7 linked regions of the Homo sapiens genome follow. The protein of the gene in region 5 purifies or fractionates together with the protein of the main gene of each other region. This does not show direct contact. Each region holds a gene or a part of one and is shown on either strand. Other genes may lie near its edges.

Region 1 (3,500 bases), on a different chromosome or scaffold from region 5:
AAAATAGAGACAGCCTCCCTCCTCTCCCTTCCCCACAGAATCTGGGAGCAGCCCCTAACTATTACCACTAAATCTTCCCGGCCTTTGCCTGCCTCTCCATGTTTTTTCCCCTAGCTCCTCTTCTGCTATGCATCTTTCTCCTTGCCAGGTGTCTTACTGTTACAGGAAAGGGGTCCCGATCCAGACCCCAAGAGAGGGTTCTTGGATCTTGCACAAGAAAGAATTCAGGGCAAGTCTGCAGTGTAAAATGAAAGCAAGTTTATTAAGAAAGTAAAGTGGTGAAAGAACAGCTACTACACAGACAGAGTAGGACGTACCTGAAAGTAGCAGGAGGAACGCATCCGCCCTAGGTACAATGCTTGTATATATATGAGGAGATGTGCTCTCTGCCACAAGGGTTTGTGATAAAGGATTAATTTTCTTTCTTCTTCTTTTTTTTTTTTTGGAGACAGAGTCTGGCTCTGTCGCCTAGGCTGGAGTGCAGTGGTGCGATCTCGGCTCACTGCAAGCTCCACCTCCCGGGTTCACACCATTCTCCTGCCTCAGCCTCCCGAGTAGCTGGGACTACAGGCGCCTGCCACCATGCCCGGCTAATTTTTTGTATTTTCAGTAGGGACAAGGTTTCACTTTGTTAGCCAGGCTTGTCTCGAACTCCTGACCTCAGGTGATTCACCTGCCTCGGCCTCCCAAAGTGCTGGGATTACAGGTGTGAGCCACCGCGCCCAGCTAATAAAGGATTAATTTTCTTAATTACCACATTTTGCAAGAATCGATATTATTATCTTTAAAGCAAAATTAGGAATGCCTTTGTTCTCCAGATATTGGAATATCTGGACACTCCCAAGTCTGGGTCTGTTTAGTAAACATTATTAATTTGTTCCCTTAGCCATAAACATCTAGAGGCTAGGAATGCCCAACTTTCTGGGGAACGCAGCCCAGCAAGTCCTGGCCACTTTTTTTTTTTTTTTTTTTTTTTTTGAGACAGTTTTGCTCTGTCACCCAGGCTGGAGGGCAGTGGTGTCATCCTGGCTTACTGCAACCTCTCCCTCTTGGATTCAAGCAATTCTCCAGCCTCCCAAGTAGCTGGGATTACAGGTGTGTGCCACCATACTCAGCTAGTTTTTGTATTTTTAGTAGAGACAGGGTTTCAGCATGTTGGCCAGGCTGGTCTCGAATTCCTGACCTCAAGTGATCCGCCCACCTCGGCCTCCCAAAGTGGTGGCATTACAGGCGTGAGCCACTGCACCTGGCGTCATTTTCCTAGCCCTTGCTCAAAATGGAGTCACTCTGGTTCGAATGCCTCTGACATTAGTCCCCCTCCAGCTTATTTTTATTTTTTCTTTACCCCTTTCCTCTGTCTATCCATACTGATGTTTACTTTCATCCTCTTCCCCCCACCCCATTTTTATTTTAATGTGTCTCTTACTCTTCCATTTCCTTTTAGCTTATCTTCCCTTATCCCACTGGCTTATCTTCTCTTCTCCCACTGGCTACCGCATGTGTCTGTTTTCTCTTCTGCCTCTTCCAAACATCCATATAAAGTTAATGTTTCAAAGTGATTTAATTTATGTACTCTGTTCTTAATTTTAAAAGCAAGCAATATTAACATTTTAAATTTCTTCTTAAGAGACTTTTTAAAATCTCTAAACTAAATTAGTTATTTTTGGTTTTGTTTCTTTTTAAAAAGTCCCTCATTTGATTCTCAGCTCCCTCACTGTGGTTCATGGCCTTCAAAAGAAAACGATTTTTTGTTCCTTCAGTAGAAAATGATTGGTACCAGTCTGGCAAACATGGTGAAACCCCATCTCTACTAAAAATACAAAAACAAATTAGCTGTGCATGGTGGTGCACACCTATAATCCCAGCTACTTGGGAGGCTGAGGCAGGAAAATCCCTTGAACCCAGAAGGTGGAGGTTGCAAGGTTGCAGTGAGCCGAGATTGCGCCCCTGCTCTCCAGCCTGGGTGACAGAGCGAGACTCCCCCTCCAAAAAAAAAAAAACAAATGAAGAAAATGATTGGTGGGTCCATAATTGCATAGGTAACAGAGCAGAGATGACCATAATCACTGCAGTCTACTGTAGTTCCAAGTTATTGTTAATAGAAAGGTCAGCTATAGTTCTATTATCAGGTAATATAATGTCTTAGTTAAAAGTGTATTGTAAGTAGTAGAAATCTAGCCAAATTCATTTATTTATTTGTTTTTTAGAGACAGAGTTTTGCTGTGTAGCCCAGGTTGAAGTGCAGTGGCACAATCATAGCTCACTGCAGCCCAAACTCTTGGGCTCCAGTGATCCTCTTACCTTAGCCTCCTGAGTAGCTAGGACTACAAGCACATGCTATGGCACCCAGCTAATTAAAAAAAAAAAAAATTTGTAGAGACAGGGTCTCGCTGTATTGCCCAGGCTGGTTTTGAACTTCTTGCTTCAAGTGATCCTCCCTCCTTGGCCTCCCAAAGTGTTGGGATTACAGCCATGAGCCACTGCACCAGGCCCAAATTAGTTTAATAGGGAATAAATTATAAATGATACAGATTTCATGAAAGCAAAAGCTCACTGAACATCCAGGTGTTTGGAAGTATGGAATTATTACTATTTTTTTTTTTTTTGAGATGGAGTCTTGCTCTGTCGCCCAGGCTGGAGTGCAGTGGCGCAATCTCGGCTCACTGCAAGCTCCGCCTCCTGGGTTCAAGTGATTCTCCTGCCTCAGCCTCCCAAGTAGCTGGGATTACAGGCACCTGCCACCATGCCCAGCTAGGAAGTATGAAAAATTTTAAAACAAGAGTTTGTGGACTTCCCCTCTAGTCTATTTCCCTTCTCCAACTCTGTTGGCTCCTAGCTCTCAGTCTCTGAGCCTCTTATTCAAACTCTTGAAAGAAAAAATATCTCATTGACTACTTAACTATCCAGTGAATCAGCTCCCCTGCAGTCAGGTTATTGAGTTACACAGACATATAATACAAATGTATTATAACATAAATATACTAAGTAGGTATTATGGGTCAGATAATGTAAATGTATCTGTAAAGGTCCACTTTTTTGGAAAGAGAAATTCACAGAGAAGGGAAATGAGCAGTCACCCCCAAAGTGTCTATTTTATGGTGTTTGAGAGTAAAATGGTATATAAGAATGAGATGGCCAGGCATGGTGGCTCACGCCTGTAATCCCAGCACTTTGGGAGGCCGAGCCGGGCGGATCACCTGAGGTCAGGAGTTCGAGGCCAGCCTGGCCAACATGGTGAAACCCAGTCTCTACTAAAAATACAAAAATTAGCCGGTTATGGTGCACACCTGTAATCCCAGCTACTCGAGAGGCGGAGGCAGGAGAATTGCTTGAACCCAGGAAGAGGAGGTTGCAGTGAGCCGAGATCACGCCACTGCACTCCAGTCTGGGCAATAGAGCAAGACTCCGTCTCAAAAAAAAAAAAAAAAAAAAAGAATGAGACAGCATCGTTTCTAACAAGTGCACCAGAGTGCCAAAAGATGATCTGTGTAGCCAGACAT
Region 2 (3,500 bases), on a different chromosome or scaffold from region 5:
TCTTTTAAATAGAATAGTTATATCTAAGCCAATTACACAATTCCAATCATTTCAGCTATTTCAAGTAAATAATTAGTTATATGAAATTAATATTACCTTTAACATATCTTGAAGATGTGTTACTAACTGGTAATGCTATGTGTCTGTTTTCTCAACTCTGATATAGAAATTATAAAAGTACATTGTCATGGGCATTAAATGATAAACCATAAATATGGTTAATCATAGAGAAAAGTTTCTGGTTATCACAAGTACTCAAGTTGTAAAGCAAATGAAAATAGAGTTGATAAATGAAGTCAGGAACTGCTTATTTAAGAAGAACAAAACCACAGAAAGTCTAATAAAAACACAAGAAATTTAAGTTTTAGAAGAGTGGAGGCTAAACAAATATAAAAAGAATTTTATGAAAACATTTGGCAAAATTGTATGCCAGTTATTTGAAAAACACTTACAAGCCAGATTTTCTAAGGAGGAAAATAAAATTTAGTAAATAAAAACACATTTATCAAGCAATGATTCTGAGCTGGATAAATGTACTAAGTACTTTATATATTCTTTCCCATTTAATCCTCAATTTATTTTACAATAGGCACTGTCTATAGGCACAATTTAGAGACAGGGAAACTAGGCAAGTCACTTGGCCAAAGACAGTTGTTAATGAAGAGGCAGATCTATGACTTGAATGAATACAGGTCCCTGGGACAATGTGTGCTTGCACCCACTTGGTTACACTGATGTAGAGAAAGAAGGGTTAGCCTGGGAGCCCAAGGCATCAAGGTAGGCAAAAGGAGCCCCGGACAAAGGGCACCCATGAGGCTAACGCAAACTCATCGAGGTAGCGAGATAAAGTCAGTGGAAAAGTAGCCAGTGGCAGGCCAGAAAACAATTACATTCTCCAGCTGTACTTGGAAATGTAGAATTCACAAACGAATAAGTGGTGAAAAATAGTAAGAATTGGAAACGAAAAAAACCAGCAATGTCTCTGTAATGGCCTAAAAAGTTTTAGAACTTAAAGAAATTGTTATCTGGTAAGTTTATTCAGAAAATAGTGCATTCCCTACTGTTGCCAGATAATTGTGATGTAAATAATCTTTTCAGTACCTTTGACTTAGATTTCCCATTCTCTCTGGAGGAAGACATATCTTTGATTGCTTCTGGTGGCATATAATTAACTGTGCCAACCTATATGCCAAGTCAGAGAAAACACAAATCAATGAAAATATTTAATTCTGCTTTAGATTTTTTTTTGAGATTATTATTATTATTATTATTATTATTATTATACTTTAAGTTTTAGATTCTTAAAAATACAAATGCCAGATCCTTGGAAACTTGGGTAATTATAAATTTCAATGATATCCTTGCAAATTTCAAATAACTGCTGACAACGTTAAGATATATATATCAAATTTCTTCACAACTGCAGCAAAACGAGTTGGGTTCATAATCAGCAAAGTGACTCCTTTCAGAATGCTGTGCTTTTTCTATGATTATACTGGGCAACTAGTAAAGCCTGCCCTAAAAACTCTCCAGGCTAAAATCCTATTAATGGCCATAAACTTTGAGGCCATTGAGGGACTTACCATTCGTTTCTTGTTGTAACATACTCAACTTTAAAAAAATATATTTTTTAAATAAGCCCACCAATATACAAACAAAAATACCATCTAGCTTTGTCTCACAGTAGTCCTCTGAGTTTCTACAGTAGGATATGCCAACCTTACAATGAGCTCATTTTCTTCTAAAATACATGGTTTGCTTTAAACACAGAATATATCTACTTTAGGGCCTTGACATGGAAGATATTGTCAAGCTGATTTACAACTCATTGATCTGCCATACTTTTGATACAAAGAGACATGACTGTCAAATAGGGCATGTCGTCCATCATTCCTCCTAACAAAGTCTATTTTACTCCTGGGATTAAGGTGGACTCACATCAAAAATCTGTAAACATGGAACATATCATCTTGGTTCCAAGCAAGAATATCTTTTAGATATACTTTGGTGCCATTGCTTTAGTTTTTATAGAACAACGTCTTTTAGTTTGCTGTTGCAATATCTATTATAAAAATGTTGCTTATAATACTTATGGCATTTACAATATGAAGGCCCACTTAAGAATTTTTTTTCCAATTTCAGTGATAGGAAAAGGTCGGCTTCTCTAGAAGAATAAAAATGATCTTACCTCATAGACAGTGAAAAACATATAACTGCAACTCCCTCTTTGCTACAAGGAAACTCTGAGCCAAATTTTCAGGTCAATTTTTGATCACGACCAAGTGATTTCCAAGGAAGGTATTACTGTTTCTCTACTTCAGCTATAGGAAAACCATTCACAATTGCTGGAGATATTACTATTTGATCTTGACTTTCTATTCTACATTACAATGATCATGGTTTATATTTTTAAATCTATTCTTATTAAAAGACTTCAAATCCTTTGAAGAATGAGGTGATTAAAAATATAACACTCATTTGCAATATAATACTTCACAGGTAAAAAAAGAATTGAACTCTACTGTGAGAGAACCAACATTAAGTCTTACCTGAGAATCTTTAACAACACTTGTTGTATCTGGTTGCATTTGGTTTGCAATCCCAAAATCAATTAGCTTTAGCATTCCATCAACTATCAGAAAGTTAGCTGGTTTAAGATCACTGTGAACAATGCCTTTAAAATAAAAATCCACTGTAATATTAAACAATGCAAAACATTCTAAGGACCAAAAAATTCACAGTCTACAGGTCAAGCTGTATTTATTCCTTCAATTAGTGAACCCAATTCAATAATTTTTTTATATATTCTGCAAATATTTACATAGCACTTGTTATGTGCCAGGCACTGTTCTAAGTTCATTGTTTATACAGTACTGCATCATTTAATCTTCACATCAATGCTGAAGTATTATCATCATCCCCACTATAAGGCAAGGAAGCTAAGGCAATGAGAGTTTAAGTAACTTGTACAAGGTCACACAGCCTAAGTGACAGTTAGAATTGAAGCCAGACAGTCTGGCTTCAGAATCTATCCTCTTAACCACTGTGATTCACTGCCCACTAGAGAGCATCACAAATTATACTGCCAGACAGTAAGACCCTAATGCTCCTGACATCTCCACCCCTATAGCCCTGATCTTGATCACTGGTGAATTATCTTTTAAGATAATTTAAGAGAGAGAGATGAGGAGGAGATAAATTACAATTAACTAGGATAACAGTTATTAAGAACAAAAAAATATATAGGATAAGGTAAAGGCAGAGAAAAACCCTAAAAAGAACCAAGGACAAGTAAAAACCAACCCAGAAGGTAGGCCTAACAGTAAAAAACAAACAAAAAAACCAACTTCTCACACAGGGCATACAATACAAAATGATTAGGAGAATGAATAAAGTAAACATCTCATATTTTCAGGATGCCTGAACCCCAAAGTCTTAGACCTGCTATAATCCAAGTATTTGGAGATAAGGATGACAGACTACGTTAATACTGAGAAAAA
Region 3 (3,500 bases), on a different chromosome or scaffold from region 5:
GAAGCTATTGAATCCTTCAAAGAAGCTTTGAAGCAGAAAGTTGACTTTATTGATGCATATAAAAGTCTAGGGCAGGCATATAGGTGAGTAAAATAATAACAGTTGGGGTAGGAGGGAGGCTGAAGAGTGGGGAGACAAGATAGCTTCACATAATATTTAAAAGAAATAGTATTTCTTAACCAAAGGAGATGGGTATTTTGAATTGTGCAAGTATGTATAGACTTGTTGATATTTTCTCTGAAATGCAGAAAAATAAATTGTACCAGAGGATGTCATGATGCACAGTATTCTCTCTTAACTTCAGCGTGTGTATTGGTCTAGAAAACGTTCATCCTTCAAGGGTTGTTTTGAATAGTGGCATTGTAAGCTATTGGGGTGTAGACGCTGCTGCTACTTTCTTAGACAGTAACTAAGGTAAATTTCCTATGATCTCTTTGAAGAGTCCTAGAATGAAGGGATGGAAAAGTTGTGATTATAATGTACATCTGCTGAGAATGAGAAGTTGTAACTAGAACTTGGCTTCCTGACGCCATGCATTGCCCTGATGATTAGAGCCATTGTGACTTTTGGCTTAAAAAAAAAAAAAGTAAGCCGGGAGCGGTGGCTCATCCCTGTAATCCCAGCACTTTGGGAGGCTAAGGCAGGCAGATCACTTGAGGTCAGGGGTTAGAGACCAGCCTGGCCAACATGGTGAAACCCTGTGTCTACTAAAAATACAAAAGTTAGCTAGGCATGGTGGTGGGTTCCTGTAATCCCAACTACTTGGGAGGCTGAGGCTGGAGAATCGCTTGAACCCGGGAGTCAGAGGTTGCGGTGAGCCAAGATTGCACCACTGCACTCCAGCTTGGGCGACAGAGCGAGACTCTATCTCAAAACAGGAAAAAAAAAGTATATTGTGTTATGAAAAGGAGGTAGGATGGCATGAGTGAAGGAGCTCATGACTTAGTTCTGCCTTGGTCGTTCTGCAGGTATGAGTGCTTAACTTCCCTGAGCTTCTGGCTTCTCACTTGTAAAGGTGCTACAAAAGCTAGAAAAGAAAGACAGCGACGGAAAGTCCCTTTATTAGGTACCTTATTCAGGAAGGATTACATTCAAGAGCTTATTTATCTGATAGTTTGAGGAGCTCTTATACTAACTTGGAAGAAGTGTGTTTGGATTTGTTTGGGGTTTAAGGGATGATATTTGTGCTTCCTGTCTCACAGAATTATTGAATATAAATTGAAAACAGATTTGAAAGCACCTTGTAAAGTGCTGTATGAATGTAAGCAGGAATTATATTTTTAAAAAATGTTCACTATTTATAGAGAATTGGGTCCCGCTTTTCAGGAGGTCAAGTGGGAGCATCGCCTGAGCCCAGGAGGCTGATTTCAGCCTGAGCAATGCAGTGAGACCCGGTTTCTAAACCTATTTGAAAAGCAAATAAAAAGCAGATTGATCCATAACAACCATTTCCATCCTGGAATGGTTACAATTCTAAAATACACTTCTTTTTTCAGAATTCTAAATTATATAATGATTTACTAGATTTTAAGCAAAGCAACTTTGGTGACCAAAAAAAAAAAAAATGCATTTTTAAGGCTATGAATTTGATTGAGAATGATGAACTGTTTATGATTATAATTGGTATATTTTTTTCCAAATGGGAAAAGTGTGTTTCTATCCATATATTAACATTTACACAGTTTTTAGGGTTTGGGACTCATTGTGAATAATCAAGGAGAGGGGTTTGAATAAGCGTCTGCCTTTGGAAATCAGCAGATGAATTTTCCCCACAGAATTTCAAGAGCTCTGTGGTTATCCTATGAGCTGGTGAGATTTAGAAGTAAGTGAAATGTAATGTGTCAGAGGCTATAAAAAAGCAACAAAGGGAACACTCCCATCAAGGTATCTTGTTTACATATTGGTCCATAATTCTGAGGATAGCTTATTCTGTATGTTTCCCGTAATATCTATACTGTATTCATAACTATTATTAAATACCTAGAGAACTGGGCAATTTTGAAGCAGCCACTGAGAGCTTTCAAAAGGCACTGTTGCTCAACCAAAATCATGTGCAAACCCTCCAGCTCCGGGGAATGATGCTCTACCACCACGGCAGCTTACAGGAAGCCCTTAAGAACTTTAAGGTGAGCATCCATAAATAAGAACACTGTAATTGGAATTACTGGATTATTCTTCATTGAAGTTTAGTGAAATGAATAGAGAAGGGGGACTGAGAATAGTGTTTCTACTCCAACAAAAAGAAAGAGAAGAAATCATTGCTCTTGTCCTGTAGACTAGTTTACAGGTCTGGTTTAACCTGGAGGGAAAACTAATTCCAGAGTAAAGAATAAAGCATTTCAAAGTTTTCCTAAACTGTGTTGATACTAATGCAGCATTTTGTCCTCAGCGGTGTCTGCAGCTAGAGCCATATAATGAAGTGTGCCAGTATATGAAAGGGCTCAGCCATGTTGCCATGGGACAGTTTTATGAAGGGATAAAAGCACAAACAAAAGTTATGCTGAATGATCCTCTCCCAGGCCAGAAGGCTAGCCCTGAGTATCTTAAAGTAAAGTATCTCCGAGGTAAGTCAGAAAATCACAGAATTGTTGGATTTTCATGCTCAAAGCTGTAGAAATCATATTGCTTGACTCTTTTATGTTTCGTATGAAACAGTGGAGTCTGAAAGAGGCCAGGTGACTCATCCACAGCCACACCTTGTCAGTGCTAGTGTCGAGACTAGATGTTTCTATCTTCAAAAGATCAGTCAAATGCATTTTCTACCACTTTTAACATTTTTACTTTCTAAAGTTAAAACATTTTTTACTTAAGTTGAAAAGCCATATTTTGAACTAAATGTGACAAGCATCTGGAATATTTGTGTCTCATCACATCTCATCCAAGAATACAGGAAGGGCAGGAAACTGACATTCTGTGAGGTTCTTACTGTTTTTTTGTTTTGTTTTGAGATGGAGTCTTGCTCTGTCACCAGGCTGGAGTACAGTGGTGCAATCTCAGCTCACTGCAACCTCCGCCTCCTGGGTTCATCCCATTCTCCTGCCTCAGCCTCCCGAGTAGCTGGGACTACAAGGGCGCGCCATCATGCCCAGCTGATTTTTGTATTCTTAGTAGAGACAGGGTTTCACCATGTTGGCCAGGATGGTCTCGATCTCTTGACCTCGTGATCCACCTGCCTCGGCCTCCCAAAGTGCTGGGATTACAGGCGTGAGCCACCACGCCCAGCTGGTTCTTACTGTTAAATGTGAACTTGGTATCTTTGACTTGTCATTCCTTCATATCAAAATTCTCATATATTTTGGAGAAATATGAGGTGAGGAAGAAAGCAAATCTTGCAGTTACCCTTTTATTAGTTGTAGTTTTACTCACCTTTTATCTCCTGTCTCTGAAGACAGTTTTTTTAATTAAAGCCTACATTCTTTTTTGTTATTGTGAGCCCTTTATACCATGACTGTCCAAAATAAAAAAAAGGGGAAAGCTGTGTGTGTAATTTTAAATTTGTG
Region 4 (3,500 bases), on a different chromosome or scaffold from region 5:
TGGTAGTGGCAGGAGACATGTTTGGACCAATATGGATTGGGCAGGGCAGGGGTGGGCGAAAAGGAGTTGAGTCGATTTTGGAAACGTTGAACTTGAGGTGAAGGCTCTACTATCTATTCTTATAAGGGCTCCAACAAATACTTCTTGTTTCTGAACATCTGCACTTGCCAGGGACCTTGGACCTCTTTGCTTCCATGAAAGTACATTTTCTAAAACCTGCTTTCTCCAGGAACCCTTTCCAGATTAATTTTACTTGACTGCATTCAGACTTTTCACTTCTGATCATTCAACAGCTCTCCATCTGTTTTTTAATTTTTTTGTTCTTATACTGATTTTGCACACTTCTATGTTAGCATTAGGTTTGGCATGAGTAACAGAAATACCTAAACTAACAGTTTAAAACAAGATAGAAATACATTGCTCTGTCATGCGAACAAGCTGGACATAGGGAGTCAAGCATCAGAGTGAAGGCTCTATAAATACCAGGACCTGGGTTCCTTCTGTCTCACTACCCAGCTGTGAGAGGCTCATTTCCAAGGTCACCCTATGGTCCAGTATGAGGCTGGAGTGCCAGCTATTCTATCTTCATTATAGCTCCCATGTCTGCATTCTAGTTATCAAGAATGATGACTTGATAAAGGGCATTCTCTCTTTCTTTAAAAACACTTGCCCAGGGCCAGGCGCGGTGACTCACGCCTGTAATCCCAGCACTTTGCGAGGCTGAGGTGGGCGGGTCATGAGGTCAGAAGTTCAAGACCAGCCTGAACAATATGGTGAAACCCCGTCTCTAATAAAAATACAAAAATTAGCCGGGCATGGTGGCACACGCCTGTAGTCCCAGCTACTGGGGAGGCTGAGGCAGGAGAATCGCTTGAACCTGGGAGGCAGAGGTTGTGGTGCGCCAAGATCGTGCCACTGCACTCCAGCCTGGGTGACAGAGCAAGACTCCATCTCAAACAAAACAAAACAAAAACACTTGCCCATAATCTACAATGATTTCAAAATAAAAGTTTAAACAACAAAAACAACAATTCCCCTAAGTTGCACACATCATTTTCTACTTATATCTAACTGGCTAGACTTAGTCACATGGTCACCTAAACCAACAGGAAACTGGTAAATAGTCTTCATTTTGGGGAACTGTGCGCTCAGTTAAATTCAGAGAATTACTGACAAATAGTTAAATGGACATTTCTAGACAACTGGAAGTTTCTGCCACAGTCCCTATAGTGTATTATGTACACAGCAGCCAGTGACCTTTTCAAAATACAAATCAGATCACATCACAGCCTTGCTTAAAATCTTCCAGTAGAGTCCCATTATAGTTAGAACAACTCTGTGCCCCTTACTCTGACTTCGGAGGTACTATGTGACCTGGAGCCTGCGTGTCTCTCTGGCCTTCCGAGCGCTCTCTACTAGAACACAGGCCGCCTTCCCATCACTCAAAACACATCAAGCTAATTCTTGCCTCAGGAACCAGCTGTGCCTTCGGCCTAGAATCTCTTTGGCTGATTCCTTCCTGTTGTTCAGGTCTTGTGAGGCTTTCCCAATTTCTAAATAAGCGCTACATTTTCTCCTTCATTTTGCTTTACTTCATTATTATATTACCTGGTATTTTGAGTCTTGTTGGTTGTCTGTCTCTTCTCACTAGAAAGAAGGGCCTTGTCTGTCTGATTCACTGATGCATCTCCACAGCCTAAAAGACTGTCTGGCCTCAACAGTATTCAATACAGACACGATGAACACATGGGGGTGACTGAGCGCGACTCCAGTGCATCTTCTTTGTAACCGCAAACACATAGCACAGTAACTGACAGGCACACATCTTGGATGAACAAACAGTAGCCACACATGTGACCTTGCTTTTTTAAATGCGAGCACAAATCAGGGGATGGGAAAAGAACTGAGATTCCCCCCCACCCTCCTGAGATACCCTGCCACCACTGTTATTTTCCTCAAGCTGGCTCAATTTACCTTTGTTAGTAATTAAGTGTGTCTCTTTCTACATCTTCCTGTGTTAAGCAACTCAGTGGTAAACATAAAGCTTTTAAAATCCAACACAGAGAACCACCTACCTGGTCTCTCTGCTCATTACCATTTCCTATAATGACAGCAGAACAGAGTTCAATTAGAGTCCACATACTATTTGACATGGCAGTCACTTGTTTTTGATAAACTATGTTCCAAAGAACAAAAAAAGTACCCAAATTTAATCAAACTCAATCATACTTTACTAGTTAAGAACAAAGATGGATGGTGAACTTTGGGATCACTCCAGCCTACATATGCTAATGACATGCCAATCACTTTAGTAAGAAAGAGTAACTCTATAGCAGAAGTGCTTTCTCTTTCCTGCAGAATGTGACAAACTCCTCCTTAGTCGAGCTGATCTGAGATGGCGCTTTTGTAAGCTGTATTTTAATTACACATCAGTCCTCCTGACTGTACAGTGACTACCATCACCTTCTAACATGATCAGGTCATATTTGAAAGACTACTTGGTATCTTCTAGTGCTGTAATTTCCAATGTTACTCCAGGCATATTTAAACCAACATGTCTTAATGTCATTTTGATTAGAAAGGACTGAACTTTCAGATTAGTATACCCTGTAATTTTGGAAGCAATATAACAAACCCGTTGAAGTGTCAGTTCTTGGAGCCACCCTGGTGTTTGAGGTGACTGAGAGGGCAAGGCCTCCCACCAATCACAGCAACTCTGTTCTGTTGTCCTTTTTCCTTTTTTTTTCAAGTGCTTCCTCACAAAAGTTCCTCTGAAGTTTGGAAACCATTGGATTAGACCACCTCTTAAGATGCTCCTTTCCAACTCAAAGATCATAATAATTTCAATCTCCAGTGCCTCAGGGAGACGTATTTCTAAGTATAAATAATTATTCTACAGGAGCGTAAGTTGAAAAATGATAGGAGATTGTGCTGGATGGGTGGTACCCCAAGAGAAGGAGGTAGTCTATTGTTTTAAAATTTCAGATATGAACTTTATTTCTAGTCTATCATTTTTCTATCTTTTCTAAAAAGGACTGAAAATGGCTTTGATTTCAACTTGTTTTGTCATGCAGGGTTTTTCCTAAATAGTGATTTTAATTTCAAAATGAAAGATAAACCAGATTGCAGTTGAGGATTTACTACAAAAAAACCATTATTTAATAAGACTTTTCAATTGACAGTGTTAAAACAGTTTTTCCCAACCCCTGGAAGGAAAAGCCAAAAAGTTGATTTTTAATAAGGCTTTAGTATTAAAGGACAAGTTTTTCAGTACCACACTTATTTCTGTATAACTAGTTTATAGTCCTGGGTGAAATGTAAGAATGAAAAACGAGTTAATACTTGCACCGTCTCAGACAAGATTTTTAAATACAGTGCCAAGGAATATTTTTGCTGTTACATTACAAATTTAACCAGTTTCTACAGCTTGAAATATTGCTGAGTCGAACAGATTCTCCTGAAGCAAGTGTGCAGAATAAGAACAAAAAATGGATTTATAA
Region 5 (3,971 bases):
AGGCAATATCTCAAATACCTGCCGTGTTGCCCCTATGACCTCAGGTCCTACTGCTGTCCCGGGTGTCTGACTCAACAGCAGCTTCCGTGGCCTCCTTTCTGGGTCTCTTGGGAACACACCTCTCTCCTATCTCAGGGTTTTGCAGGTGCTGCCTGCAACCTCTGGCTTCCTCCCTCACTTCCCCAGATGTCTGGTAAAATGTCATTTACCAGAATCCCTGGCTTCCTCCCTCACTTCCCCAGATGTCTGGTCAAATGTCATTTACCAAAAAGCCTTCCCTGGCCAAGCTGTATAAAAATAAATAACAAGCCCCACCCTGCCCTCTGGCAGCACTCCCCAGTCCTCTCAGCCAGCTTTATTTTTCTCCATTACAGTGTCTCATTAGCTGATACACTCTATACTTATTTATTTGTCCATCATCTTACACACACACACATACACACACTCTCTCATTAATTTAAGCTCCTTGAGAGAGGGCTTTTTTGGTTGTTTTTGTCTGTATTCTCCACACATAGAGCAATGGCTGACACATAGTAGGAACTTAATGAATGAACTGCCATTTCTTGAGCACCTACTTTGTGCCAGGCAAGTTATATATGATGATCGGGTAACAATGAGTAAATATTTTAAAGTATCTTTTCTTTAATTATTATAAGAATCCTATTACTGTCTCCATTTTACAGATCAGGAAACTAATGCTCAAAGAGGGGCTGAGTAACTTGCCCAAGACACTCACCTAGGTCTGTTTGAGCATCCACGCTCATGCTTCTTGTAGTGCACGCTGCTTTTCAAATACCTTAATGATGATGTAGGCGCATGTAACACACATCTCTGGCAAATACATAACACAAGAGCTTTTCATTCTATCATTTTTCGTCACCCATCACAGCTTTGGTCCAGGAAGAAACATCCTTGAGATTGGATTTTCATCTCCCAGAAAAGACTGGTAGTAACAGCTTTAGTTTTCCCTTATTCCACCCATTTAGGGAAAATCAAGGGAGAGTTTTCCTTTTGAACTGGGCTGGGACAAGAACAGATAGGTCGGGGACCCAGGGAGAAGCAGACAGAAGTTCATCTGCTCTGAAACTCCCTCAGAATTTTCCAGAGTCCCTGCCTTTGTGAAGTGTTGCTTCAAAACCTTCATAGTCCTGGAATTCAGGAAAAGCATTCATTAAAAAAGGAAAAAATTAAAGTCTGACTTGTATTGTGTGTGCTCCTCTCTGGGTGTCAGCCTGTGTCTACTGGGGTCTAGTCACATACTGCAAATACCAGCCCAGCCGAGACTTGTAAAGCTCTGCCCACCCAGTGGCAGTGATGGCAATGGTGTGGGAGAGTCATGTGGGTCACTCCCGGACCGAAGAACCAAGAGAGCGACCCAGTCCCTGCTGAAATCCACGCCATGCCTAATCCATGAGGGCTTCATTTTTATACTAATCACTGCCACTATCAATTTCCTCCTCCTCTCTGCTCTCACTGCTCTTTTCCAACACCATCATGAACTTATCCACCTCCTGATTACGAGTGCTTCTCCCCCTACCAGGTGTGAACCTCAGGGAGCCAGGACATTGTTATCATCATCTCTGCATCCCCAAGGACTAATCCCATCTCTGACAAATACTAAGTGCTCAGTAAGTATTTGCTGACTCAAGAAAGATGCAGAACGAGCCTGTACCTACTGCACCAACTGGAACAAGCAGAACAAGTCACCTCTTCTGGAAAGGGCAGGAAGCAGAAACACAGAGGAGACCAGCATAGACCAGAACCACCGCTGAGCCGACTACAGTGCCCAGTCCTCCCTCATGCACCCTCCTTACCCCTCACCTGCCACTCTCTGAGCCCCAAAGCCACCCACATTCACCTCCCCAAGGGCTAGAAAGCCAGCAAGCATTCCCCCAGCGTCCCACCCCACCCCACTGGGGCTGCTCTTATCAGAGCCCAAGACACCAACGTTAAGTTACCCTTAAACGGAGTAATTTGCATCTGTAATTTCCGGATAAAGGAGTGTATTTCATCAGCCCTGCTGAACCCTGGACAGCAGAGATTTCTACCACCCGTCTGCCGAAGACACAGCGGTGCCTTGCTCCTCCCTGGCTAAACGCATTTGCTAGCCCATCCCTGCAAAACAAGTCATTTTCTTTCCCTTGCGCTAAAACCCGTCCATAAACAAATCCTTCTGTGTCCCTAAGAAACGGCTCCCACGCCCACGGAGGGCGCCCTGCACATACAGAAATACACACTCACAAACCCCAAGAGCCACCAGGTGTAAGCACGTTTGAATTCTGTTCTTTAAGAACAAGCCAACAACAATAACAAAATCTATCTACTAGAATGTAACTGAAACTAAAAGCAGCGGCTAGGAAGCTTATGGAAACGGAGCTATAAATGCCAGCAGCCTGACATTTATAAGTTGCAAAACTACTTATGGCGCTAATAGTTCAAACAGGGTTTTAAAACAGCCCTTGGGGAGGCCGCTTTCAAAGAAGCGCACAGCTCCAGGCAGCGGGCAAGTCCTTGCTTTTCTGCGCCGGTTTTTCAAGACTCTCCGATCTTTTGTGCCATTTACTATGAACAGCACTCAGCTGTGCGAGCGTGTATATTTCAGCCCAGGCAGGCGAGTCTGGGAGCCCTGGCGCACGCGGGGTCCGCGCCCCGGCTGGGTCGGTTGCACCGCAGCGAGCAACGCAGTCCCCTACCTGGGTGGCAAATCCGCTGGCGGCCGCCTCCGGATGCAGGCAGAGCAGCGTCCGCCCCGGCAGCCCCGCGTGCAGCTCCGGCTAACGCGGAGCTGGGCGATCCGGGCGGAGGCAGGCGCCGGCGGGTGTCACACCTGCATCACCGCGCCCACGCCGCCCCCGCCAGCCGCCCAGGCGCAGCGCGCAGCGCGCCCCCGCGCTACAGAGCACGCGGGGCGGGAGGCTCCTGGGTCCTCTACTCAGCGGGATCAGATCCTAACCCGCTTTCTTCCCGGCCCGGGCATTAAAAGTATTCGCTGCGGGCAGCTCTGCTTCTAAATCTCCTTCTGATCGAAGGCTGGGTGTGGAGATAGCTCAGAGGGAAGGAGGACCAGTGAGGCCGCAAGGTCTCCGGATTTGCAGACCAATAAATATTAAACTTCTTATTCCTCGAGTTTTGTAACCAGCTGATCATGGGCGTCGTCTCGCTGTCTCCACCCCGCCTAGGGCGAGGGGGCGCTGTGGACTCCACATGCCCTTCCACCCACTCCGAACTAGGATGCGTCAGAGGACTAGACGCAAGTTCCCGGGAAGGGGAATCCTCTGATCACGCCGCCCCCAAAGTATCGTCGATCATGGTGCTGTTCGACTGCTTTGTTCTCGTTTGCCTCATCAGGAACTGAAGAGAACCTACCCGGCCAGCGCGGGGAGGAGGAAAGCCTGCAAGGCTTGGTGCATTCAAACAAGCCCTCCACCTCTGTCTCCCTCCTTCCAAACCACCACCCACTAACTCCACTGACGAGAGTTCAGCAAACTAAACTGCCAAGGCTCAGCACCGAAAGACTCTTTAGGAGCATAGGGCTCCTTCTAGGAGCAAGTAAGGAGCAAGGAAAGGACACTGGAAATTCGGATGCGGACTCAAACAGCACAACACTGCAGGTGCCTGGCCCCTCTAGGATCCGAAGCTACGTTCCTTTCCTAACAGGGCTAAAATGAAGGCCAGTTCTGGAAGAGCCTTCCCCCTCTTCTCCATGGAGCACATCCTCCATCATGAGGTCTTCAGCTGGACTCCCCACTCTCGCTGCCGTCAATGACCTGCGCTCCAGCTCCCTGCCTCTTCCCTGGCTGGGGCCTCCGCCGACTCGCACCTGGACCACCCGCAAGGACTTCAACTTCTCAGGCTCCTGGAGTCATTTCTCAACATGTAAATCTGATCTTGACTCTTTCCTACCTAAAACCATGTGATGGCTTCCCAGTGTCCTTGAAAAATCCGAAACATTTTTTTTTTTTTTTTTTTGA
Region 6 (3,500 bases), on a different chromosome or scaffold from region 5:
AGGCCCCATTAACTGGTTTTTCCCATCCAAAAAACTGAGTGGACACAGGAGTCGGGCAGACAAGAGATGAACCTTTATAACTGATACAGCTATTGAAGAATACAGGTTAAATGTGATGGCCAAATGGGCTTGCTAGCAATTTGTGCCCTCTCCTCTACATTCTAGACTTTGAGACAGTATGCTCAAGGGTAAGTCTGGTTAGGATAATTGCCTTACTGGTCTGGGCAGAGAGGTGCAAAGAGACTGATTCCCACTACTCATAGCTTTCTGACTGATCAGCTCTTCCTAATCAAGCAAAACAGAGCAAAGGCAATCACCCTCCAGTAAGGTAACTCACACCGCCATGGTAAGATGTTAGAGATGGGTCTAGTGATCAGTGGTGTTTTTTTAGGGAAGTTCCTCCCAACCATGGGGCACGGATGAATGGGCAATAATTGTCCCTCCTCTAAACAGGCTAGCTAATCTGTACATTTGAAAATACAGGCCGAATGAGCTTAAAAGGTTTATTAATTCCTATCTAAAAATTAAAATCCAAATATTTTATAAGCACATCCCTGTTCTTCTGCTTTTCTTCTGTTAACCAAGTTTCAGCATTCATTTGAATATAAGGATTTAGTTATAAAACACGAGAGAAAGAGAATGAAGCACATTTTCTAGCTACATAAATAGAAGTCTGTAATGACTGACTGGCACCATGAAGACAAATCTTGACTTCAGCATAAAGTAAATACTACAAAATTTAAGATAATTTAGCTTGTCATTATTTCAATTCACAGATTTTTTTAAATGAATATGAAGTGTTTACTGTTGGCTAGAATTACTGTATACAAAGGATAAGGAAAGTCATGGTCCCAAAAGACAATTAAAAGAAATATAGAGGCTGGGCGCAGTGGTTCACGCCTGTAATCCCAACACTTTGGGAGGCCGAGGTGGGTGGATCACCTGAGGTCAGGAGTGCAAGATCGGCCTGACCAACATGGCGAAACCCCATCTCTACTAAAAATACAAAATTAGCCAGGCATGGTGGCAGGTGCCTGTAATCCCAGCTACTCGGGAGGCTGAGGCAGGAGAATCGCGTGAACCCAGGAGGCAGAGGTTGCAATGAGCCAAGATCGCGCCACTGCACTCCAGCCTGGGCGACAGAGCAAGACTCCATCTCAAAAAAAAAAAAAAAAAAAAGAAATACAGAATTGCCACTGACCCCACAAGAAGTACAGGTGTCTGAGAAGCAGGTGCTGTTACACAAAATATAAATACTGTGCAGGAACCTATAATTTAAGATGGTAACGAAAGATCTTTCAATAGCACATCTTTTTTCCTACACTCCTCTCTCATCTTCCCCCCATCTCCTCTGAAAAGATGCAATATCCAAATTGGAGTGCCCTATTATTAAAGTCATTCTAAACATGGTATGAATGACTAATAAATCATCTGTATATACCCCCCAACAAAGACTTCTGCAACCCCTTTCTAGACTTCTAGAATGGACGTGAAATCTAAGGATACATGGAAGAAGATTCTTCTGCTGCCTGAAGGCTGTGAAAGATTACATAGAAGTAAAATCTGTTGAGTAAAAACTGTCAAGCAACTACTTGTTTGGGGAATTACAGTTTGCATTTAGTTACAATGTTTATAATGTTTGATTCAATAAATATTTAGGTGTTTACTATGTGCCTTACTATGAAGAAAATAAAAAGCTACCATCTGTCCTAAAAATGAGGCAACTAACTTGTCCAAGGTCATAAGGTGGTCTGGTCCAAGTTCTAAGTCATCTGTTATTCAGATTATAGAGCTTAGAGAGTAACTGAGTTATCTTATACCTGGTGGATAAGGGGATAAAGAAGATGCCACAGACAGTCACTACCATCTCTGCCTTCTAGTTTAGGATATGGATATCTCAAAAGAATGTTCTATATTAATTGTCTCCAATTCTTCCCTTTCATTCTCTCCTGAACCCAATCTACCCAGACTACTGAACTCACCACTTCACCAAAACAGTTCTTACTGAGGTAGCCTGTGACCGCCATACGGTTAATTCCAACGGTGAAGTCTCAAAGCTCATCTTATTTGAATCATCATCATCATTTAACCCAGCTGATCCCTTTGTCTTTGAAACACTTTTTTCACTTGACTGAAGAGAACCTTGTATTGGTTTGCCTCCTACCTTACTGGTCGTTCCTGCTCTATCTTCTTTGTTGATTCCCCTCCATCTTCTTGACTCTTTTTTTTTTTTTTTTTTTTTTGAGACGGAGTCTCGCTCTGTCGCCCAGGCTGGAGTGCAGTGGCACAATCTTGGCTCACTGCAACCTCCGCCTCCCGGGTTCAAGCAGTTCTCTACCTCAGCCTCCCGAGTAGCTGGGATTCCAGGCGCCTGCCACCACGCCTGGCTAATTTTTATCTTTTTAGTAGAAACGGGGTTTTACCATGTTGGCCAGGCTGGTCTTGAACTCCTGACCTCGTGATCCACCCGCCTCAGCCTCCCAAAGTGCTGGGATTACAGGCGTGAGCCACCACACCCGGCTCCTTGACTCTTAAAGTCTGGAATCCCCAAGGCTTATTAGCTCCCAGATCTCTTCTCTTCTCTTTTACGTTCACTCCCTTGGTGAACTCATCCAGTTTTGTGGCTTCAAGTTACTCTCTAAGTGCCTCGGACTCCCAAATTCCTATCTACAGCCCTAAACTTTCTTCTTGTAACTCTACACCTGAATAACCAATTGCCTACATACCAGCTCAACTTCAACGTTTAACAGACACCCCAAATTTAGCATGTCCGTAAACCAAATTCCTGATGTTCTCCAAACCAGGCTCCTAGTCCAGGTTTCTCCATCTCAACAAATGGCAATTGCATCCTTCCAGTTACTGAAGCCAAAAATCTTTAGAATTATCTTCAGTTTCTCTTTTTCTCTCGCATACCACATTCAAGCCATCAGTAAAATTCTGTTTGCTCCATGTTGAAATTCAATCCAGAATCTGACCATTTTGCACCACCTCCACTGCTACCACCCAGGTCCAATCTATACCACAATTATCCCTCTAAGTAACTAATGCCTCACAGACTATACTCAGTACACTAAAGAGATCATTTTGAAATTCAAGTCAAATCATGTATCTTTTCTGTTCAAACACCACCTCCCCCAACTTACTTATAAGTAAAAGCCGAAGTCCTTACAATGGCCTACAAAGCCCTACATGGTCTTCCCTTACCACCTATGACTCAGATCTTGTCTCCTATTGCTGTTCTCCCATTACTGTTTTCCTTGATCACTCTGCTCCAGCCACACTGCCTGCCTTGCTATTCCTCAAACGCTAAGCAAGCTCTTGCCTCCTGGCCTTTGTGCTTACTGTCTGCTCTTCCTTGAATGTCCTTCTACCATGCTATGGTCTGAATGTTTTTGTCCTTCGAAATTCTTATGTTGAAATCTAATCCCCATTGTGACAGTAATACAAGGTGGGGCCTCTGTGAGGTGATTATATCACGAAGGTGGAGTCCTAATGGATGA
Region 7 (3,277 bases), on a different chromosome or scaffold from region 5:
TGAAACCACTTACTTTAATCTAATTACTGTTTTGGAGATGAAAGGCCATCAATTACATGCTGAAATCTCCCAAACCTATCTCTCTAATCCAGTCTTTTCTCATAAGCTCCAGAATCATGCAGTAACTGCCATTTATTTATCTCCAGAAGCATGTCACTCAGGCACTTCAAACTCAACATGAGCTCAACTTCTTCCCCTATAGACCTGTCCCTTTATCAGTGGAAGCCCAGTCATTAAAGCAGACTTGTGAGTTATCATTGATCCTTCTTTCTCCTCTCTCTGGCTATCACTATATTTAATCTGTCCCGGAATCATACTGAGTCTATCTATTAGGTATATCTTAAACACTTTCTCTTCTTTCCATTCCCACTGCCACTCCTTCTACCCTAACTTAAAGCAACAGCCAATTCATGATTCCTTGGCTTCATTCATTAACCTTCTCAAATCTGTACATCATACAGAGGTTGCATCACTGAATTAAGTAGGTGACTTCCCAAGACATCTGTTCCAAAAGAAGAGTAGTTAACTGAACATTGGGTCTTTCTACTTTTGTGGCCTCACTTTGGGCAAGATTGTTGTCTTACATTTCAGACTCAAATTTTCTTGGATTTCTTTCAGTGACTAAAATGTTCTCTCCTCTTGTCTGAATGCCTTGTGTAGTTTCCTTTATCCCAAGCAATGATTTTCTCTTATTCACATTCTTAATACACACTCACTTTTAAAATCCAAGTTTGAACGTTTTCCTTCAGTTCATTTTGATAAACTAAACTGCATTAATTCTCATTGTTTTACATCTCATCAAACTTTAAATACTCCTGTAATAGCTTGTTGAATTGCCTTCTCTGCTAGACTGTAAGCTCACCACGGTAGGAAACATGTCCTCCTTATTCATGCCAGAAACCCTAGTAGGTTCTCAGAAAATGTTAGGAATTTAATCCCTCCTTAGGGAGAAAATGTGTCTCTCATGTGCAAATATTAACGAAAGTATCTTAAGCAGTTGTTCATAGCTCAGTGTATATTTTATATGTTCTAAATTGGTGGTTCATTAACATTGGTTATTTAGTCTGTGTAGACTTTGGGATTTTGTTTTTTAGTTAGTAGCCAATAGCTGAAACCTAGGAGATTTCATATAAACTTGCACACTTCTGAGTTCTCTTAAGAACCATGTTGTCTGGCAGTCCATGGTCATAGTTGGCTGGAGTTAAGCAGCAGCTGCCTCACTCCCCCAACCGCTGCCTACACTTGGAGTCCACCACAAGTCCATACAGCTTTCTCTCTGCCTACATCACTCGTTTCCATCAACTGTCTGGTTGTTTCCGGCATTTGAGTTTTAACCTTTTTTGTATATGTTTTCTTCTGTTATAAAATTGCTTTGTATGCTTATATTGAACAAAATAATCTCACTAAATTTTTAAAGTCATCTAAGAATATTTATGACACTTCTAAATTTCAGAGATTATCCATTTGTTCTTTGAAAACAAATGAAAATATTTGAAAATATTTTCTATGTAAAGGTTTACCTAAACTTTGCAAATACTCATGTAAATAATTGATTCAATCCAGACTCATCGATGGCTGCTAAAATTTTGGGTGAAAGATTTTTGGGAAACAGAATGGTGACATAATCTCGAAGTGTCAAATTATAGGTGACTTATTAACTGCAGAAGGATTTTTCAATGGAGAAAACTGGTAGACACCACCTTCACCAAGGGACCAAAATTAAAATTCCAATGAGGTATAAACTGAAATGATGTGCTTCCTGATATGATTTACTAAGCATCATGCAAATCACGTGTGTAGTATTGCCACCAACAATATTTTACCTGGACATACTCACAAGCAAACAAACACATCCAATAGTTGGGATATTTTACAAAACAACTGGCTTTGCCTCTTGAAAAAAATATAAATGTCACAAAAGAACAAAAAAATAAGAATGAGGAATTTTTGGAGATAAAGAAAGGTAACTAAATGCAATATGTGGTCTTTGACCTTGGATCAAAAGAAAAAATAAAACACTATAGAAGACACTATTGTTATAATGAAAGAAATTTGAATGAGGGATTATATTAGATAGAGTAGCATATCAATGTTGAATTTCTGAAGTGTGAGAATGGTATTGTGGTTATATAGGACAAGTCTATATATAGATTTGCTCTAGTAGAAGAACACAAGTTGAGGGCTTTGGGAGTGAGGTGTCAGCATGTTCACTACTTATTTTCAAATGATTCAGCAAAATATTTGTATGCTCAGAGAAACAGAGGAGAGAGATTTCTGGTTTTTGGACACAGTTGATAAATCCCAGTAAAAGTTATACAGTTATTCATTGTAATTTAAATTTTTTGGTAGATTTGAAATTTTCGCAACAAATGGGAGAGAAAGAGGGAAGTAAAGCCTATGGATTAAAAAAGATTTTAGAGATATATCACCTAATGCAATTGTGGACCTTGTTTGGTTCTTAATTCAAACCTACATGTGTAAGGAAACATCAGATAATTTAAAGAATTTAAGCAGTAATTGGGTATTTGCTAATATTAAGAAGTTATTTTTTAAGATGCAAGAATCACCAGATTAAAACAAGTCATTATGGTTTTGATTAGAAGAGCACACCAAACATGTTATAGAAGAAATACAGTAGTCTGAGACTTACTTCAAAATAAGCTAGTTGGGTAAGTAGTTAGGGACACAGATGTCCTAAGATGAGCTGTGTATTGATAATTGTTGAAATTGGGTAATTGATAAATGGGAGTTCATTGCTATCTTTGCTGTATACAAAGACAGTTCTTGCTATCTTTGTATATGTTTACATTTTTAAATAACAAATGATCCCCTCTATTTTGCTTGAAACCCCAAGAACAAGAAGAGCAGAAAATTTTGAATTAAATTTGGATTATTTGGTGCCTCAAAAACCAAACAAATATATGATTTACCACTTAAAAAATCCAGGTGATAACCAATTTTACATTACCTTTAATGATGTGAAGACAAGCCAAAAAAATTCAAATGTTTGCAATTTTCTGTACGTGGTTTAAGATTATTATAATAGAACATTTTCAAAAATTCACAAAAGCAGACAGAATGATATAATTAACCCTCATGTACCATCATAGCTTTGACAATTATTAATGTTTTGCCATTGCTGTTTCATCTCTCTCCCCATTCTGAACTCTATTTTTTTTTGAGACAGAGTCTCCCTCTGTCACCCAAGCTGGAGTGCAGTGGCACAATCTTGGCTCACTGCAACCTCTGCCTCCTGGGTTCAAGCAATTCTTGTGAC

The links.
Region 1: the proteins of SV2B (region 5) and RAB39A purify together in Homo sapiens (affinity purification with mass spectrometry; one large-scale study listed by BioGRID and IntAct). This does not show direct contact.
Region 2: the proteins of SV2B (region 5) and TTK purify together in Homo sapiens (affinity purification with mass spectrometry; one large-scale study listed by BioGRID and IntAct). This does not show direct contact.
Region 3: the proteins of SV2B (region 5) and TTC13 purify together in Homo sapiens (affinity purification with mass spectrometry; one large-scale study listed by BioGRID and IntAct). This does not show direct contact.
Region 4: the proteins of SV2B (region 5) and NETO2 purify together in Homo sapiens (affinity purification with mass spectrometry; one large-scale study listed by BioGRID and IntAct). This does not show direct contact.
Region 6: the proteins of SV2B (region 5) and DNAJC1 purify together in Homo sapiens (affinity purification with mass spectrometry; one large-scale study listed by BioGRID and IntAct). This does not show direct contact.
Region 7: the proteins of SV2B (region 5) and SLCO1C1 purify together in Homo sapiens (affinity purification with mass spectrometry; one large-scale study listed by BioGRID and IntAct). This does not show direct contact.

What each region holds. Positions count from the first base shown.
Region 1 is NC_000011.10:107,934,948-107,938,447, forward strand, and holds part of RAB39A (ras-related protein Rab-39A), read left to right. Parts: intron 1-3,500. UniProt on the Homo sapiens protein: The small GTPases Rab are key regulators of intracellular membrane trafficking, from the formation of transport vesicles to their fusion with membranes.
Region 2 is NC_000006.12:80,035,649-80,039,148, reverse strand, and holds part of TTK (dual specificity protein kinase TTK), read right to left. Parts: intron 2,675-3,500; coding exon 2,550-2,674; intron 1,183-2,549; coding exon 1,102-1,182; intron 1-1,101.
Region 3 is NC_000001.11:230,930,362-230,933,861, reverse strand, and holds part of TTC13 (tetratricopeptide repeat protein 13 isoform a precursor), read left to right. Parts: coding exon 1-83; intron 84-1,984; coding exon 1,985-2,126; intron 2,127-2,389; coding exon 2,390-2,564; intron 2,565-3,500.
Region 4 is NC_000016.10:47,137,446-47,140,945, forward strand, and holds part of NETO2 (neuropilin and tolloid-like protein 2 isoform 1 precursor), read right to left. Parts: intron 1-3,500. UniProt on the Homo sapiens protein: Accessory subunit of neuronal kainate-sensitive glutamate receptors, GRIK2 and GRIK3.
Region 5 is NC_000015.10:91,099,086-91,103,056, reverse strand, and holds the start of SV2B (synaptic vesicle glycoprotein 2B), read right to left. Parts: upstream 2,801-3,971; 5' UTR 2,694-2,800; intron 2,107-2,693; exon of another isoform or gene 1,981-2,106; coding exon of another isoform or gene 1,959-1,980; intron 1,262-1,958; exon of another isoform or gene 737-1,261; intron 1-736.
Region 6 is NC_000010.11:21,997,231-22,000,730, forward strand, and holds part of DNAJC1 (dnaJ homolog subfamily C member 1 precursor), read right to left. Parts: intron 1-3,500. UniProt on the Homo sapiens protein: May modulate protein synthesis.
Region 7 is NC_000012.12:20,747,332-20,750,608, reverse strand, and holds part of SLCO1C1 (solute carrier organic anion transporter family member 1C1), read right to left. Parts: intron 1-3,277. UniProt on the Homo sapiens protein: Mediates the Na(+)-independent high affinity transport of organic anions such as the thyroid hormones L-thyroxine (T4), L-thyroxine sulfate (T4S), and 3,3',5'-triiodo-L-thyronine (reverse T3, rT3) at the plasma membrane.